Homo sapiens: one gene and its partners. The protein of the gene in region 3 purifies or fractionates together with the protein of the main gene of each other region. This does not show direct contact. Each region holds a gene or a part of one and is shown on either strand. Other genes may lie near its edges. The genes, in order: ARHGAP39, PABIR2 and SPIN2B.

The links.
Region 1: the proteins of SPIN2B (region 3) and ARHGAP39 purify together in Homo sapiens (affinity purification with mass spectrometry; 3 studies listed by BioGRID and IntAct, with this or other methods). This does not show direct contact.
Region 2: the proteins of SPIN2B (region 3) and PABIR2 purify together in Homo sapiens (affinity purification with mass spectrometry; 3 studies listed by BioGRID and IntAct, with this or other methods). This does not show direct contact.

The regions. Positions count from the first base shown.
Region 1 is NC_000008.11:144,532,110-144,535,858, forward strand, and holds part of ARHGAP39 (rho GTPase-activating protein 39), read right to left. Parts: intron 2,094-3,749; coding exon 2,020-2,093; intron 1,217-2,019; coding exon 1,017-1,216; intron 288-1,016; coding exon 196-287; intron 1-195.
Region 2 is NC_000023.11:134,783,581-134,787,329, forward strand, and holds part of PABIR2 (PABIR family member 2), read right to left. Parts: intron 2,371-3,749; coding exon 2,306-2,370; intron 1-2,305.
Region 3 is NC_000023.11:57,119,539-57,123,287, reverse strand, and holds SPIN2B (spindlin-2B), read left to right. Parts: upstream 1-1,739; 5' UTR 1,740-2,050; exon of another isoform or gene 2,051-2,074; coding exon of another isoform or gene 2,075-2,207; intron 2,208-2,653; coding exon of another isoform or gene 2,654-2,658; coding exon 2,659-3,435; 3' UTR 3,436-3,606; downstream 3,607-3,749. UniProt on the Homo sapiens protein: Involved in the regulation of cell cycle progression, this activity is related to the inhibition of apoptosis following the removal of essential growth factors. Exhibits H3K4me3-binding activity.

The DNA of each region.
Region 1 (3,749 bases), on a different chromosome or scaffold from region 3:
GGTAGGCCTCGGGGTGCCCAGCAGACACCTGGGGAAACTGTCCAATGGGCAGAAGGGAGGATGTGCTAGAAGTGACTGGGAAGCCATCACATCACTGGGCAGGATCAGGGTGGACCCCAGAGGCGGAGACAGGGGCCCCTGAGAACCACTGCCTGAGCCAGGCCCGCTCTGCTGCAGCGTGTGTGGGGGACTCACCAGGGACGTGGGGGTCTTCCAGGCCTGTGGGCACCTTCCACTGGTCCACCTGCAGCTTCAGGGCATTCACCTCGTCAATGTCCCCAGGGACCCTGCAGGGCACAGGGCAGGTCTCAGGCAACAGGAGCCTGTGCTGCGGCTTCATGATTCCGCCTGGACACTCCCTCCGGTAGGCCCCTGCTGACCCGGGGAGGGGAGCAAAACCTCAGGACCCCCCGCCACCCCGGTTGGCCTCTTTCCCACGAACGTGGGTGGGTGGCGCTCTTCAGGATTCCTGCCCCACACACCTGCGTCCGAGTGTGGTGCTTCCCCAGGCCACCGTCCCTCCCTGGACCCCTGCTGGCTCCCTGGGTGGATGCCCTCACCAAAGGGCCACTGGGGCTCAACCTGCAAGCCTCAGTTTCCCCAGCTGCCCTCCTGGGGCCTGGGTACCCCTTGCCCTGACAGGTGAGTCATGGGAGTGGGTGGCACCCTGTGCCATCCCTGTTCACAGACAAGGGCTGCCTGTCATCTGAGGCTCCCACTCCAGGCTACCCATGGCTGGTGTCCAAGCACGCTCTGGACCCCTGGTGGCCGTCTCTGCAGGGGCGCCCTCCCTGGCTGGCTGTGCTGCCTCTTTGGAATGGGTCCTGCCCTCTCTCCTGGCCTGCACACCCTCAGGGTCAGCTTCCACACTGTGGCCCCACCCTTCCATCTGCTCTCAGGTATGGGTGCGGAAGCAGCCCAGTGGGCCTGAGGCTTAATGGCCCCTGCATGCCACAGATGCATGGTGGACACATGGCTGTGGCCCCCACACCCGGCGCCCGGGGTTGCCGTGGCACCTGAAGATGCCCTCTGTCTGGTCACCGTTGAGCGCCAGCACCTCCTCAGAGAGCCGTGTCTGCACCCAGGGCAGCTGGCGCTCGGGGTAGCGCTCTCTCTGCATGCCCATGACCTCCTGCAGTGCGCTGCCGAACATGGACGGGCTGAACACGGCGTTCTTGGCATGCCGGATCTCCTCCACGTTGGGCTTCTTCAGCCCCTGTGAAGACAGAGGCTCCGTCCTGGTCTGGCCTGGCCATCCTCAGGACCCCCCGCCACCCCGGTTGTCTTCTTTCCCCGAACATAGGTGGGTGGCGCTCTTCAGAATTCCTGCCCCACACACCTGGGTCCGAGTGTGGTGTTTCCCCAGGCCACTGTCCATCCCTGGACCAGCCCTCCTCGCCCCCCAAACCCTAACTCCTCCTGGGCTGCCCCTGGCTCTGCCTCCCCCTCCTCTCATCCCTGTGAACTCCTGGCTCCAACTAGAGCTACGGACAAGCCCAGCTCCCTGGCCAGAGTCACCGTCTACAGCACCAGCTCACAGGGGCCCTTGGGAAGGTGGGAGTGAGTCCTGGGCCGGCCAGGGCTGTTGGGGAGCACAGCAGAGGCCAAGCTAGCTGAGCTGGGGTGAAACTTCCAGAAGTCTGTGGCAGGGCTGAGAGCGCTGGGGAGGGGTATGATGGGAGCAGCGCATCAGAGAGAAGAGGATGTGGGGAAGGGGCCAGGCTCTTGGGACAGGTCCAGGGAACGGGGTCCTGTCCCTGTGGTGCGGTGTGACTGAGCCCGTTGCCTGCCTTGCTCCTGAGCTGGGGGTCCGGGCCCAGGAAGAGCCCCCGGGGGAGGGTGCAGCCCAGAAGAACACGGGGTCAGCCTAGCGTACCCCGCCACCCGCCTAGGCGGGCTCCATGTGGCACCCTCTGCGCTGCTGCCCCATACCAAACTGCAGGCGGGGCTCCTGGGGCTGTCCACCAAGGGTCTCTGTGTCCCCGCCTGCCCTCCCCGGCCCCCCAGGCGCACCCGTACCTTCTTGGCCCCGGTCAGGGCTGCCTTCTGTAGCTTGTGGTAACAGTACTTGGCATACGTGCTTATCGCCACCCCTGGAAAGGAAAGGGGCCTGATCAGCCTGATGTGGGTGTGTGGGTGTGGGGCCAGGAGAGGGGTGAGCAGACACAGCTCCTTCGAGGGCCCTGGGGGGCTGGGCTGGCCTTGCCCCGGTCACCCCCTGCCCAGCACAGCGGGTCCTCACACTCTCCCAGGCAGTGTCCTTTAGAGCAGAGGCCCAAGGAGCACTTCCCCACCTGCAGAGGGACAGGCTTGGGAGGAACCGCCTGGCAGCTCCACCTGCCCTCCTACGGCCACGCAGGAACAGGAAGGGCAGGACCTGGGTCTGAGGGCCTCTAGACCCCACTGCTCCCTCCCCGGGGCCTGACCCAGGGAGCTGTCCAGGTATTTGACTCTTCTCTGCTTCAGGCCCCTCCCTGGCTTTTAGGCTGTGGGCAGGAGCCCCTGGAGGAGTCATTTCCACCTACCCAGCACCCGCAGCCAGTGCTGGGGGAGGCAGGCACTGAGCTATCTGCACAGCAAGCCCAGCTCTGCTGCAGCCCTGGGCCTGAAGTACCACCTCTGGGCTCTTCTGAAGGACTGAGGCAGCAATGAGAGGGCCCAGTCTCCTTTCTCAAAGGAGGGGCTTCCTAAAACTCAGCCCGACAGCAGGGTCCCTGAGGGGAGGGGCAGTGTGCCTGAGTCAGCACCTGATGAGGGACTCAGGGACCTCAGCCTGGGGAGTCTCCAGACACAGAGCCCAGGGGAAGGTGCTAGAGGGGAGAGGATTCCCAGGCTGGGTCTGGAAGGCGCGGCACCTTCCTGCTCCAGGTCGGGAAGCAGCAGATGAGAGAACACGCCAAGAGAAGCTGTCTGGGGCCAGGGGAGCCATGGACCTCGGACAGATGGACAGGACCCTGTGCTTCTGGACATGAGACCTGCCCCAGCGCCCAGCGCCTACCGCCTGCCAGGGTGAGGGGGGCCTCTGGATCCTGACCCCCAATCGGAACACCTTTGTCTTCTTTGAAGGAGCAGTTTCTGGTGGACAGCTGAGGGCATGGGGTCCTTGGACCAGGTTAAAAAAAAGTGCACACGTGTCTTGAGTCCATCTCTAATTATCACAGAATAGTTGACATGTGACTGCTAAGGAGACTCTTTTTTAGAGGAACCAAAATGAATTTTTTTTTTCATAGACGTTTAGGTCCTAGAAAATCTGTCATGGTCCTTGGGACCACAGGTCTTGGCAGAGGATGTGGCCCCAGCCTCCAGCGTGGGACCATGTGGAACCAAGGGCCCCTCTGGGCAGGCTATGAGGTACCCTTGTTTTTCTAGAATGGATGGTGCCCACGCACACTGGACCCAGGCTTCAGAGCCTCAAGAAGGCAAGGAGGGAATGAGCTTTGCAGGAAGGCGGCAGAAACCCAGGGCCTCAGCTCAGCAGCTGGGACATGTAGTCACTAGGCTGGGGGGCCTGGGGCAGACGGCAGGGCTGGGCCTCCTGCTTGCTGTCCCTGCGGGAAGACAGGCCCTGATCTCCTGTCCCCAGGCCCCTGGTGGGACAAACACCCCAGCCTGAGCCTGCTTGGGACTGGGACACCCTCCAACACTCTGTGACTGGGATACACTGGGGCCACCGCCTCTCAGCTGATGAAGGTGATCATAATGCAGTCTCTCTGTGCCTCAGTTTACTCCTCTGTAGGATGGGGACTGTG
Region 2 (3,749 bases), about 78 Mb from region 3:
TGGGCGTGGTGGTGTGCACCTGTAATCCCAGCTATTTGGGAGGCTGAGGCAGAAGAATAACTTGAACCCAGGAGGCGGAGGTTGCAGTGAGCCAAGATCATACCACTGCACTCCAGCCTGGGTGACAGAGCAAGACTCCGTCTCAATTAAAAAAAAAAAGTTATTGTTAATGACTGGTCTCAATTAAAAAAAAAAAGTTATTGTTAATGGCTGGGCATGGTGGCTCATACCTGTGTAATCCCTGCAATTTGGGAGGCCAAGGCAGGTGGATCACTTGAGGCCAGGAGTTTGAGGACAGTGTTGCCAACATGGCGAAACCCTGTCTCTACTAAAAATACAAAAATTAGCTGGCCATGGTGGTGTACTCCTGTAATCCCAGGTACTTGGGAGGCTGAGGCAGGAGAATCGCTTGAACCCAGGAGCCCAGGAGGCAGAGGTTGCAGTGAGCTGAGATTGCACCACTGCACTCCAGCATGGGTGACAGAGCAAGACCTTGCCTCAAAAAAAAAAAAAAAAAAGTTATTGTTAAGACTCGTTTAAAATGACACGTTGACACTTGCAATCATGTAGTCATATCCCCAGGAATAATGAATAAACCTGTGTTGCCGGCTGGGCGTGGTGGCTCATACCTGTAATCCCAGCACTTTGGGAGGCCGAGGCAGGTGGATCATCTGAGGTCAGGAGTTCAAGACCAATATGGTGAAACTCTGCCTTTATTAAAAATACAGAAAATTCGCCAGGCGTGGTGGTGGTGGGTGCTTCTAATCCCAGCTACTCGGGAGACTGAGGCAAGAGAATCGCTGAGCCCAGGAGGTGGAGGTTGCAGTGAGCCAAGATCACGCCACTACACTCCAGAGTCTGGGCAACAAGAACGAAATTCGGTCTCAAAAAAAACAAACAAAAACCTGTGTTGCTTTTTTTTTTTTTTGAGACAGGGTCTCACTCTGTGGCCCAGGCTGCCATCTCGGCTCACTGCAACCTCTGCTTCCTGGGCTCAAGGAATTCTCCAGCCTCACCCTCCCAAGTAGCTGTGACAACAGCACAAGCCACCAACGCCTGCTTAATTTTTGTATTTTTTGTAGAGACGTGGTTTTGCCATGTTGCCTAGGCTGGTCTCAAACTCCTGAGCTCAAAGCAATTCTCCTGTCTCGGCCTCCCAAAGTGCTGGTATTACAGACCTGTATTGCCTTTTTAAAGAGATGCCATCAGGTGCCCTTTATAAGCATCTAACACTAGTGTTGACTGATACTAAACTAAACTATTTTAGCCTACTGCTTTGTGGTTCAAAATAAGGTAACTGAGAGCACCCTGTTATATAAAAAACTCCATAGAATTGAATATAAGGCAATTCTTGCTTTGATGAGGCATAATTTGATGAGGGGGTAAACCTTACCTTATATTTGAGTATACAGCACATTTATGGATATGTTTGCTACGGCATTAGCATATATTTCTGCAGTTTATAAACTATGCATCTCTTTCATATTTAGATAACAGAGAGGCAATTTTTTGAATATATAATGATAATATGAATATATGAATAAAACTGTTATGAAGTATAAGAAAATATAGATGTATCAAATAACTCATTTACAAAATTGAGAATCAGCACAGCAAACATTTGGAAGAATACTTTTGAGTTTCCCTAGAACACAAGAGAGCAATGCTGTTAGCTCATTTCAGACAGGAGTTCTAGTTTTTAATTCAAGCTTGGCTAGGTATAAGACCAGAAGCGTGATGCTTATCTTTTTCTTTTTCCCCCCAGCTTTACTGAAGTATAAATGACAAATAAATTTATATATATTTAAGGTATACAATGTGATGATCTGATGTATGTACATACTGTGAAATGATGATCACAGTCAATTTTTTTTTTTTTGAGATGGAGTGTCACTCTGTTGCCCAGGCTGGAGTGCAGTGGTACGATCTCAGCTCACCACAACCTCCGCCTCCCAAGTTCAAGCGATTCTCCTGCCTCAGCCTCCCAAGTAGCTGGGATTACAGGTACCTGCCACCACGCCCAGCTAATTTTTGTATTTTTAGTAGAGATGGGATTTTGTCATATTGGCCAGGCTGGTCTCAAACTCCTGACCCGAGGCGATCCACCTGCCTCGGCCTCCGAAAGTATTGGGATTACAGGCGTGAGCCACCATGCCCAGCCCACGGTCAAGTTTTTAACACATCTTTTGCTTCACCTAGTTACCTTTCGTATGTGTGTGGTAAGAACACTTAAGATCTACTTTCTTAGCAAATTTCAAGTATGTGACACAGTAGCATTAGCTATAGTCACCACGCTGCTACATACCTTTTCTTTTAAGAGGACCAAGAACACTGGGTCTAATGCACTTGACTGGACTCTGACTTCTCCTGCTTTGATGAAAAAACAAACAGGATAATGTGAAGAACATCCACGATGCAAGATAAAACAGCAGTCCAGCCCAACAAATACATAAATAAAATGGACAATCTTATCAATGACTGAAATGGAAAATTCTTCTGTAATTGAGTAACTGAAATCCAATACATGATTTGAACCAGCATATGGCAACCTGGAATAATACAGCATTTTAAGTCCTTTAAAAAATATTCTATATGACAAAATACCCCCAACAGTTTAAAGAAAAAAAGATACCCTATTTAAAAAGTATTTTGGGGCTGGGCCGCAGTGACTCACGCCTGTGATCCCAGCATTTTGAGAGGTCAAGGTAAGCAGATCATCTGAGGTCAGGAGTTCGAGACCAGCCTGACCAACATGGTGAAACTCTATCTCTACTAAAAACACAAAAAATTAGCCAGGCGTGGTGGTGCATGCCTGTAATCCCAGCTACCCAGGAGGCTGAGACAGGAGAATCACTTGAACCCGGGAGGCAGAGGTTGCAGTGAGCTGAGATCGCACCATTGCACTCCAGCCTGGGCAACAGGAGCAAAACTCCGTCGCAAAAATAAATAAATAAAGTAATTTGGATTTGATTGATCTATGAACTTTAACATTTTTTCCTTATTCTTAAAAAGGATGTATTATTGTGGGGGGTATGTATGTGTGTCTTTCCCCACTAAATATAAATCAGCATTAAATTCCCCCTAAAAAACTCTGGGGCTGGGCGCTGTGGCTCACGCCTGTAATCCCAGTACTTTGGGAGGCCGAGGAGGGCACGAGGTCAAGAGATTGAGACCATCCTGGCCAACATGGTGAAACCCTATCTCTACTAAAAATACAAAAATTAGCCGAGGGTGGTGGCGCATGCCTGTAATCCCAGCTACTTGGGAGGCTGAGGGAAGAGAAATGCTTGAACCCAGGAGGCAGAGGTTTCAGTGAGCTGAGATCACACTACTGCACTCTAGCCTGGCGACAGAGTGAGATTCCACCTCAAATACAAAAAAAAAGAAAAGAAAAAACTCTGGTTAAAATGTTAATGGTAGATTATAGGCAGTGGGTATATGGTTGTTCACTGTGAAATTCTTTCACTTTTGATGTCTGAAAATTTCACAGTGAAATATTGGGAAAAAGAGTTAATCTTCTTTTTTTTTTTTTTTTTGAGACAGAGTTTTTGCTCTGTTGCCCAGGCTGGAGTATAATGGTGCGATCTCAGCTCACTGCAACCTCCGCCTGCTTGGTTCAAGCGATTCTCCTGCCTCAGCCTCCCGAGTAACTGGGATTACAGGCGCCTGCCACCAGGCCCAGCTAATTTTTCTATTTTTAGTAGAGACGAGGTTTCACCATGTTGGCCAAGCTGGTCTTGAACTCTTGA
Region 3 (3,749 bases):
TTCTCAGCAAACTATCGCAAGGACAAAAAACCAAACACCGCATGTTCTCACTCATAGGTGGGAATTGAACAATGAGAACACATGGACACAGGAAGGGGAACATCACACAATGGGGCCTCTTGTGAGGTGGGGGTAGGGGAGAGGGATAGCATTAGGAGATATACCTAATGTAAATGAGGAGTTAATGGGTGCAGCACACCAACATGGCACACGTATACACATGTAACTAACCTGCACATTGTGCACATGTACCCTAGAACTTAAAATATAATTTAAAAAAATAAAAATGAAAATAAAATAAAAAGCCCTCACTGAAACTATGACATATCTGCAAATTGCTTTCCATAAAAATTGTATAAACTTTCACTTGCATCAGCACTAGATATGAAGCTTTTTCATGATCAATGACATTAAGTAATATTTTAATGTTCTTTCATACTTTGACTGTTGAATCGAGATTATTATTACTTCTATTTTTCCTTGTAGATGTTATTTTATTAAGTGTAGTTGTTCTGTTAACATCCGACTCATCCCCTCATTCAAATACCATAAGTATCTGAATAAGAAAGATACCATTAAGCATTGTTTTGTTTACAGAGTTTTTGGTTGGTTCATTTGCTTTCTGTTCAATTTTATTTTGCTGCTTTTTACCTTTTAATAAATCAAATATTGATACTGGTACAACATTAGTATACAACCTTTCTCAAAATATTTAAATAATTATTTCAACATTCCTTAAAGAATACCCAACGTTTCTCCACTGATTTATAAAACTATAACTTTAATTATTTCTTATAAAGTTATTTTTTTGCAAAGCTTTCTATTCCGATACATAGATCTGATTACTGGTTATTGTGGAAATATTATGTCAAATGCCCAGTACTGGGAGAAAAGCCAAATTATAAATCACTTTAAAATTGAGTTTTACGGACCAAGTGCAAGATATGTAACAGGTGCTCAATAAATATTTGTTGAATGAAAAAATCGATTAGAAAACATCTAATTTCCTGGAAAAATTAATAGACATGAATTGCAGATAAAAAACAAATCCCAGTTTTGCAAAAGTTTAGGAAAAAGGAAAAAAAACTATGAGCATTAATATTTTGCTGTGAGGCCCTCAAAAATGGGAGATGGGACTGCAGTTGATGATTTTCCTCTTAATATTAATTTCCTAAAATGTAGATAGTGTTCACGTTGTACATGCAATTATCTTGCAATAAAGAAAAGGAAAAAAAAATCCCTCGAAAACAAAAACAAAAATGCCAGGAAATATCAGTCAGCAAAAATTAGGTAGAGACTGGGTCAAAATGGCAGACTTACCATAGTGAATTTCTCTGTTCCAACTCCAAATCCTTTCAAAAAGAGGAAAGACATATTTACGTGTAAAGAATAAATCCATAAGGGCATGGGACGGTGCAGGGGCAGGGGTGGGCGCGGGGGTGGGCGCGGGGCGGCAGCAAGGCGAATTCCAAGAAGATGGAAAGCAGGGCAGGCAGACTAAGAAGGTGGAGGTGGGAACCAAGTGGCCCTGAAACGGGTGAGGAAGGGGCCACAGGGTTCCGAGGACGACTGTGGCACGAACTACTCCGGATTTGGAAAGAGGCGGAGTCAGAGCCCATAGCTCCGCCGGGGCTACAGGCTGTGTGGTGGGCGTGGGAGCCTGGTGGAGAGGAGAGCCGGGTGTTTGACAGGAAGAGGAGGCCTCTCTCTGGGCAGGAAGCTGCGCTACGGAAAGAGGGAGGAGACTGCCGCGGCGACAGCAGGGACTGGTGGAATCCCGATGTGGCTGAGGGGCCGCCACCGCCAGCAGGGAGGCGGAGGGCTAGCGAGCCAAGCGGTGGGGACGCCGCTGCCTTCCTCTTTGCCTGTCTCGCCGCCCTCCTAGACACGCTCCTCATCTACGGATCCTACCCTCCCCGCTCTTGCAAGCATTCACTCGGCCGGTCGCCTGCTGACCCTCCTTCGCCACAGGCTCGTAGCGGAGGCAGCAGCGAGGTGTCCGATTTGGGCACGTGAGGCCCGCGATCCCCGGCGGTGGACGCCAGGCAGGGCAAGGCCATTAGTGGGCGCCAGAATGGAGAGGGGGATGGGAAGGAATCCAGCAGGAGACATGGGGTGGAGTTGGGCGCCAGGCAAGGGTGGGGTGGGGGAGTGCGGTGAGCAACATGAAAAGGGGGTAGGAACGGGAGCCAGACAAGGATTTGAAGGTGAGCGCCGGGAAGCAAGGGCGGTGGGTACCAGAGAAGTGGTTAGGGTAGGCAGGGGGTGTTGTGGACAGCAGCTGGGACGCTCAGGGAAGGAGGGCAGTGGGTGCCGGTCAAGGCCTCTTTGCAAGGGGATTGGAAGTGGACGCCAGTGGTAGCAAGGGGTTCCGGGAGGGCAGTGGGCTCTGAGCTAGGAGGAGGTGGCCCAGCCACTTCTGCAGAGTTCCTAACCCCAGACAGCTCTACTGCACCACCCCAGCCCTTCCCCACAGCCCAAAGGAACTTAAGAGGGAGAGCACTGCGGGCATGCAGCCAGGATTTCCAGCATTGCTTCCAGGCTCCTAGGGGAAACTTAGGCACTAGCGCAGACTACATCCAGACATGGCTATAGGGAAAAGTTTGCCTTGTGGCACACTGGGTGTGTCTCTCTATCCTCTCTCCTCCCCCAGCAGGCATGAAGACCCCCAACGCACAGGAAGCCGAAGGGCAACAAACCAGGGCAGCTGCAGGACGGGCCACTGGGTCTGCAAACATGACAAAGAAAAAAGTCTCCCAAAAGAAGCAGAGAGGCCGACCTTCATCCCAGCCCCGCAGGAACATCGTGGGCTGCAGAATTTCTCATGGATGGAAGGAAGGAGATGAGCCCATCACGCAGTGGAAAGGAACCGTTCTGGATCAGGTGCCTATAAATCCCTCTCTTTATCTGGTGAAATATGATGGAATTGACTGTGTCTATGGACTGGAACTTCACAGAGATGAAAGGGTTTTGTCTCTTAAAATTCTTTCTGACAGGGTGGCATCATCTCACATTAGTGATGCCAACCTTGCAAATACCATAATTGGCAAAGCAGTGGAACATATGTTTGAGGGAGAGCATGGTTCTAAGGATGAATGGAGGGGGATGGTCTTAGCTCAAGCACCTATCATGAAAGCCTGGTTTTATATTACCTATGAGAAAGATCCTGTCTTGTACATGTACCAGCTTCTAGATGATTATAAGGAAGGTGACCTCCGCATCATGCCAGAATCCAGTGAGTCTCCTCCAACAGAGAGGGAGCCAGGAGGAGTTGTAGATGGCCTAATAGGTAAGCATGTGGAATATACCAAAGAAGATGGCTCCAAAAGGATCGGCATGGTCATTCACCAAGTGGAAGCCAAACCCTCTGTGTATTTCATCAAGTTTGATGATGATTTCCATATCTATGTCTACGATTTGGTGAAAAAGTCCTAACTGTTAGGGTAAAATTTGGCACATGTGTGGAAACAAATGTATAATTTGTAGACATGCAAAAAATGTTGCCTTTCAGTGTATTGAAAGCTTATGGAATCCCTGATAACTAAACATCTTTGCCAGCATTAACTGTTGTTTTGCTCTAAAAAATACAAACTTGTGTGTACATGACATGCTGTGTGTAAGCCCTTTGTCTTGTTGAAAAGATCGGGTGTGTTTGGTGAATGGGGCATGAAAAGAAGGAACAGCTATCAGAGAGCTTGTGGCTTAGAGGAAAATACACAGAATAAATTGAGTAGAGAGGAACACAAAGA